2 linked regions of the Homo sapiens genome follow. The protein of the gene in region 1 interacts with the protein of each later gene in a biochemical or structural test. Each region holds a gene or a part of one and is shown in the gene's direction. Other genes may lie near its edges.

Region 1 (3,655 bases):
TCCCTTGGGATATGAGGATGTCATCCCTGAGGCAGACAGAGAGGGAGTCATTCGCTACGTCATTGGGGTAGGGAATGCAGCTCTCAGGTTGATGCTTCTGTGGAGGGTTTCTATGTGGATCCATCCTCCCTTCAATTTGCAAATATTATTAAAATCAAAGTGACATGAGAGCTAATGCTAGCTCATATACACCGTATCAGCTATCTGTTGCCACATCAATGCTGTGTAATAAACTATCCCAAAATTCAGCAGCTTAAAATAATAAGTAAGCCTGTGGGTCAGCCTGCCAAGAGTTCTGGTCTCAATGGCCTTCCTCACTGTCATTAGCTACAGGTTGGCAGGCTGCTCTGCTGATCTTGGCCAGGCTCTCTCTGTTTCTGAGGGTTGCCAGCTATGTCATCTGCTGGACCAGATGGCCTTGGGTGGAACCACTGGGGTGACTTGGCCCTTTGGCAACCTGGCTCTCATTCTCCAGGGCTAGCCTGGGCATGTCCTCATGGTGAAGGCAGGGGAGCAAGAGAACAGTGGAGATGTTGCAAGTGCTTTTTTACGCCTCTGCATCATGTTTGATAACATCCATGGGTGTCACGAGCAGTGCAAGGTTAGCGATAACCAGGTCCATGCAGGTTTGTGTTTTTCCACAACATCTTTCGCTGATGCTATTTCAATCACAAACGCCACAAGCTGCATGGAATTCCCAAGGAGGCAGTTCTTCTTAGTGCATCCTGTTCCCTCAGACACTCTGGCTCAAGCCACCCACAAGTCAGTCAATATTGCAAACCATATATAATAGTATACTTAATCAATATATAAGTTATAGGTTAAACATTCCACAGCAAACAAAGTAACATTTAACATCAGAAGAAAAAGAAAGAGGAGAAAGGATGAATGAAAAGGACTCCTGGTCTGGGCCCAAGGGTCCTGGTCCTGTTAGTCTTGCAAGGCAGAGTCTTTGATACGGCAGAGCCCTCGGCAGCAAATGCCAGGCTCTCATCATGAGCGACTGCGAGGTGTGAGTTCCAACAGCTGCTTTGAGCTGCTGAAGGCCTGATCTCTTCTAGTCACAGAGCTGTCTGGTGAGAACAGACAGAGAAGAATGTGCTTGTTTGCATCCTTATCTGGTTGGATGTAGTCTTTATTTGTTTATTTTATTTATTTATATTTATTTATTTATTTATTTTGAGACTGAGTCTTGCTCTATCGCTCAGGCTGGAGTGCAGTGGCATGATCTTGGCTCACTGCAACCTCCACCTCCTGGGTTCAAGCAGTTCTTGTGCCTCAGCCTCCTGAGTAGCTGGGACTACAGGCATGCACCACCATGCCTGGCTAATTTTTGTTTTGTATTGTTAGTAGAGATGGGGTTTCACCATGTTGGCCAGGTTGGTCTTGAACTCCTGATCTCAAGTGATCTGCCCGCCTTGGCCTTCCAAAGTGTGGGATTATAGGCATGAGCCACTGCACCTGGCCTATTTAAAAAATTTGTTTAAAACGACCTTATCCTTGTTGGCAAAGTGCCCTGTGAAATATAGAATGGAGCCTTTTTCTAAGATGGAGTCAGTTATGTCAAGGGTGCTCTGTATACAATGGGCTAAAGCAAGACTCATGTCTGAGCCCAGAGGCAATGAAGGGGGCAGATGACTCCACCAAGAGCAGGAGGGCACAGCAGAGTGCTGGGGGAAAGGGCTTGGATACAGGAAGAGGCAAGGAGTCAGGATCATCAGTGTAATCAAACTACTACAGCACCTGCATGACACAGAAAGCGATATCACCATGGATACATGCCTTGGCACGTAGGACATACCTTCATATAAAGAAAAAGGCTCCCCTTCCTCTAGGGGGAGGTCAGCTCCATACCAGGAGACGTGGCACAGCAGATGGATCAGCAGCCGGGTTTCTGCCCCAACTTGCTTCCTTGGCACAGTGCCTTGTGCAGTGTACAACCTGCCCAACTATACCTGGCAACCCTGTCCCAGGGACCTTCTGATGCATTTCCTCACTTGATAAATAATGGTTCAGACTAGTTTCCTGCAGAATTGTCTTTGCCAGATGATATTGCTAGCCTCACACCATGATTTAGCCTCTGTTCCTTGGTAACAGGTGGGAGATGCCTTCCGCAGTGAGAAATCCCGCCAAGAGCTTAATACCATCGCATCCAAGCCGCCTCGTGATCACGTGTTCCAGGTGAATAACTTTGAGGCTCTGAAGACCATTCAGAACCAGCTTCGGGAGAAGATCTTTGCGATCGAGGGTGAGTCAGGCATCTGTGTTCCCAGAGCAGCTCCAGAGGCAGCCCCCCACCCCAGAACATAGTCCCCTCTAGAATCCAGACCTTCCTAACCCTTGGTATCCCCCAGCATCAACTCTCTCCACTTCCTACAGCTCCCAGTCCCAGCCTCACTTGGTCAATTCCTTTGAAGTCAAAGAATCCATACTTTTATCTGTAATTTTGCAAATCTTGGCTATAGGCTGGTAAATTGGAGTATGGGGGAGTCAAATCCCACCCAGTATTTTAACAAAAATTTGGATGTGTTGCCAGCTGTCGTCTGTTCGGTTCTCTGTTGTATCCCAATTGCCTAGAATAGTGCCTGGTACTCAGAAGGTGCTCAATAAATGTTTGTTGAATAAAAGGAATTTAGAAATTGGGGGATTTCATAAACAGTCTGGGTTTATGGCTTATCTTGAAAAGCTGGAAGATTAGACACCTTGAAGACCGCATTCCCACTTGGCAGGATGTTGCTGGAGGTGAATGGCTGCCATCCTTCTAAGAGGGACGTATGCTGTCCAGCTTGACACAGATCCTGTCGGAGTCTCCTTTGTCTGTGGCCACCAGAGCACTTGGGTTTTCAGTACCTGTTCTAGGTTCTTCTGCTTTCTTTTCTTTTCTTTCTATTTTTTTTTGAGACTGAGTCTTGCTCTATTGCCCAGGCTGGAGTGCAGTGGTGCGATCTTGGCTCACTGCAACCTCTGCCTCCCAGGTTCAAGTGATTCTCCTGCCTCAGCCTCCTGAGTAGCTGGGATTACAGGCGCATACCACCACGCCCAGCTAATTTTTGTATTTTTAGTAGAGACGGGGTTTCACCATGTTCACCAGACTGGTCTCTAACTCCTGACCTCAAGTGATCTGCCCATCTCAGGCTCTCAAAATGTTGGGATTACAGGCGTGAGCCACCATGCCCGGCCTTCTGCTTTCTTTAATATAGAAACTTCTCCTCTTTACAGGTACTCAGACAGGAAGTAGCAGCTCCTTTGAGCATGAGATGTCTCAGGAAGGCTTCAGCGCTGCCATCACCTCTGTAAGTGGCCCTTCATTAAATTGCGGGGGTGGGGCAGGGGGTAGCAAGAAGAGATAGGAGAGATGTGGGGGTTTGGGGACTCTTCTCTGTGATAGATACTTGGGAAGTAGCTCTGTGAGGGGCAGCGGTTGTCCCTTCTTCCTTCCTCATCAACCCTGTTCTACACCTTTCCCAGAATGGCCCCTTGCTGAGCACTGTGGGGAGCTATGACTGGGCTGGTGGAGTCTTTCTATATACATCAAAGGAGAAAAGCACCTTCATCAACATGACCAGAGTGGATTCAGACATGAATGATGCTTACTTGGGTAAGTGGGGAGGGCAAGGGTTACTCTAAGAAGGGGTGAGGATTTGGCATAAGTCAA
Region 2 (3,153 bases), on another chromosome or scaffold:
GTATTTTTAGTAGAGACGGGGTTTCACCGTGTTAGCCAGGATGGTCTTGATCTCCTGACCTCGTGATCCGCCCGCCTTGGCCTCCCAAAGTGCTGGGATTACAGGCGTGAGCCACCATGTCTGGCCTGGCCAGGCTGGTCTTGAACTCCTGACTTCCGGTGATCCATCTGTTCTGGCCTCCCAAAGTGCTGGGATTACAGGCATAAGCCACCACGCCATGCCGAAGCCCAGCTTGTTTTTAATTTTTTTTTTTTTTTTTGGAGAAATGAGGTCTTGCAATGTTGCCCAAGCTAGCCTTGAACTCCTGGCCTCAAATGACCCCGCCTTGGCATCCCAAAGTACTGGGATTACAGATGTGAGCCACCATGCCCCAGCCTTGCTTTCTTGAGATACGATTTAGAATACCATAAGATTCATCCCTTTTAAGCACATAATTCAATGACTTCTGTACAAACAACCATGACTACAATCTAATTTTAAAATATTTCAATCACTCTAAAAAAGAAACCTCCTGCTTATGTACAGCGACTCTGTCTACCTCTTAAGTGAATTCTCCTACCTTTAATAGCCCTATTTTACAGTTCAGGAAACTGAGGTTCAGAGAGACAAAGTCACTTACCCACAGCAAAGAAGCAAGGCTGGGTATCAAATGCAGGACCCCCCCGGTCCTGATGCTTTTTTTTTTTTTTTTTTTTTCCTCTGAGAGAGACTCTCACTCTGTCACTCAGTCTAGAGTACAGTGGCGCGATCTCAGTTCACTGCAATCTCTGCCTCCTGGGCTGAAGTAATCCTTTCCTCACAAGTAAACCTCAGCCTCTCAAGTAGCTGGGACTACAGGCACACAACACCACGCCTGGCTAATTTTTGTATTTTTAGGTAGAGACGGGGTTTCACTATATTGGCCAGGCTGGTCTTGAACTCCTGACCTCAGGTGATCCGCCTGCCTCGGCCCCCCAAAGTGTTGGGATTACAGGCGTGAGCCACCACACGCAGCCTTTTTGTTATTAGACTCTGTCATTACTGACTTTTTTTTTTTTTTAATAGAAACAGGGTCTTTCTTTCCCAGGCTAAAGTACAGTGGCATGATCACAGTTCACTATAGCCTTAAACTCCTGGGCTCAAGTGATCCTCCTGCCTCAGCCTCCCAAGTAGCAGGGACTACAGGTGTGCACCACCACACCCAGTTAACCATTCATTCATTCATTCATTCATTTATTTTGAGATGGAGTCTCGCTCTGTCACCTAGGCTGGAGTGCAGTGGCACGATCTCAGCTCACTGCAACCTCCACCTCCCAGGTTCAAGAGATTCTCCTGCCTCAGCCTCCCGAGTAGCTGAGACTACAGGCGTGCACCACCATGCCAGACTAATTTTTGTATTTTTAATAGAGACGGGGTTTCACTCTGTTGGTCAGGCTTATCTCGAACTCCTGACTTCGTGGATCCACCCTCCTTGGCCTCCCAAAGTGCTGGGATTAAAGGCGTGAGCCACCGCGCCCTGCCAACCTTTTTTTAATTTTTCTTAGAGATGGGGGTCTCCCTATGTTGCCCAGGCTTGTCTTGAACTCCTGGCCTCAAGTGACCCTCTTGCCTTGGCCTCACAAAGTGCTAGGATTACAGCCTGAGCCATCACACCTGGCCAACAGGTTTTTTTTTTTGTTTTGTTTTGTTTTTTAAAGAATGTCTAGGCCAGGCTCATTTACTTTCACCTGTAATCCCAGCACTTTGGGAGGCCGGGGTGGGCAGATCACTTGAGGTCAGGAATTCGAGACCAGCCTGGGCAACATGCTGAAACCCCGTTTCTACTAAAAATACAAAAATTAGCTGGGTGTGGTGACACGTGCCTGTAATCCCAGCTACTCAGGAGGTTGAGGCAGGAGAATTGCTTGAACCCAGGAGGCAGAGGTTGCAGTGAGCCAAGATCATGCCATCACCCTCCAGCCTGGGCGACAGAAGGAGACTCAGTCTAAAAACTTAATTAATTAATTAATTAAAAATAAAAATACAAAAATTAACCTGGTGTGGTGGTGTGTGCCTGTAATCTAAGCTACTCAGGAGGCTGAGGCAGGAGAATCCCCTGAATCCCAGAGGCAGAGGTTGCAGTGAGCCAAGATCGAGCCACTGTTTGCCCAGTCTAGTGCACTGGGCTGCTGAATTTATTTGACCAGACACCTAGCAATAGACTTTGAAGTTCTTTTCCACTTTTCACTCTAAGATGCTGCTGTCATGAATAAGGAATATTTTGATCCCCTTCACAAACACTCGGGGCCCTCTTACCAGTTTTCACTGAAGATCTTGACATTCCTATCTGCTTAGGTGTCTGGGCGTGTTTGGGGGAGATACTGAAGAGGTAGGGCTCCCAGGCAGGTGCAGTTCGTCTGTTAGGCAGGCAGCAAGGTCCACTTCACCAGACACCCCCACCTCTGTTTTCCTGCAGGGACTCCAGAACGGGTGGAACTGGCACCCCTCCCCTCTTGGCAGCCAGTGGGCAAGAACCTTACCCTACGCTGCCAGGTGGAGGGTGGGGCACCCCGGGCCAACCTCACCGTGGTGCTGCTCCGTGGGGAGAAGGAGCTGAAACGGGAGCCAGCTGTGGGGGAGCCCGCTGAGGTCACGACCACGGTGCTGGTGAGGAGAGATCACCATGGAGCCAATTTCTCGTGCCGCACTGAACTGGACCTGCGGCCCCAAGGGCTGGAGCTGTTTGAGAACACCTCGGCCCCCTACCAGCTCCAGACCTTTGGTGAGGATTGAAGAAGCCAGCAGGGAGAAGGTGGGGGTGGGGTATCCTGCAATGCGGTGCCTGTGGCCACAGGATCTTTTGAGATGGGTGTGGCCCCGGCTAAGGGGTGCATGTGTTCTAGGCGTATGTGACCTAGGCTGCTGAGTGGCCCTGGAAGAGGATCTCGCAGGAGGGGGAATGAAATGCCCCAGAGAAGGGCTTCGGGACGTCCATCCCTGTCTGCTCACACCTTTCTTCTCTCCCTAGTCCTGCCAGCGACTCCCCCACAACTTGTCAGCCCCCGGGTCCTAGAGGTGGACACGCAGGGGACCGTGGTCTGTTCCCTGGACGGGCTGTTCCCAGTCTCGGAGGCCCAGGTCCACCTGGCACTGGGGGACCAGAGGTTGAACCCCACAGTCACCTATGGCAACGAC

The links.
Region 2: the proteins of ITGAM (region 1) and ICAM1 form a complex in vitro, tested with the Homo sapiens proteins (one study listed by BioGRID).

Annotation. Positions count from the first base shown.
Region 1 is NC_000016.10:31,273,452-31,277,106, forward strand, and holds part of ITGAM (integrin alpha-M isoform 2 precursor), read left to right. Parts: coding exon 1-67; intron 68-2,097; coding exon 2,098-2,248; intron 2,249-3,219; coding exon 3,220-3,293; intron 3,294-3,468; coding exon 3,469-3,598; intron 3,599-3,655.
Region 2 is NC_000019.10:10,281,047-10,284,199, forward strand, and holds part of ICAM1 (intercellular adhesion molecule 1 precursor), read left to right. Parts: intron 1-2,274; exon of another isoform or gene 2,275-2,404; intron 2,405-2,434; coding exon 2,435-2,740; intron 2,741-2,986; coding exon 2,987-3,153. UniProt on the Homo sapiens protein: ICAM proteins are ligands for the leukocyte adhesion protein LFA-1 (integrin alpha-L/beta-2).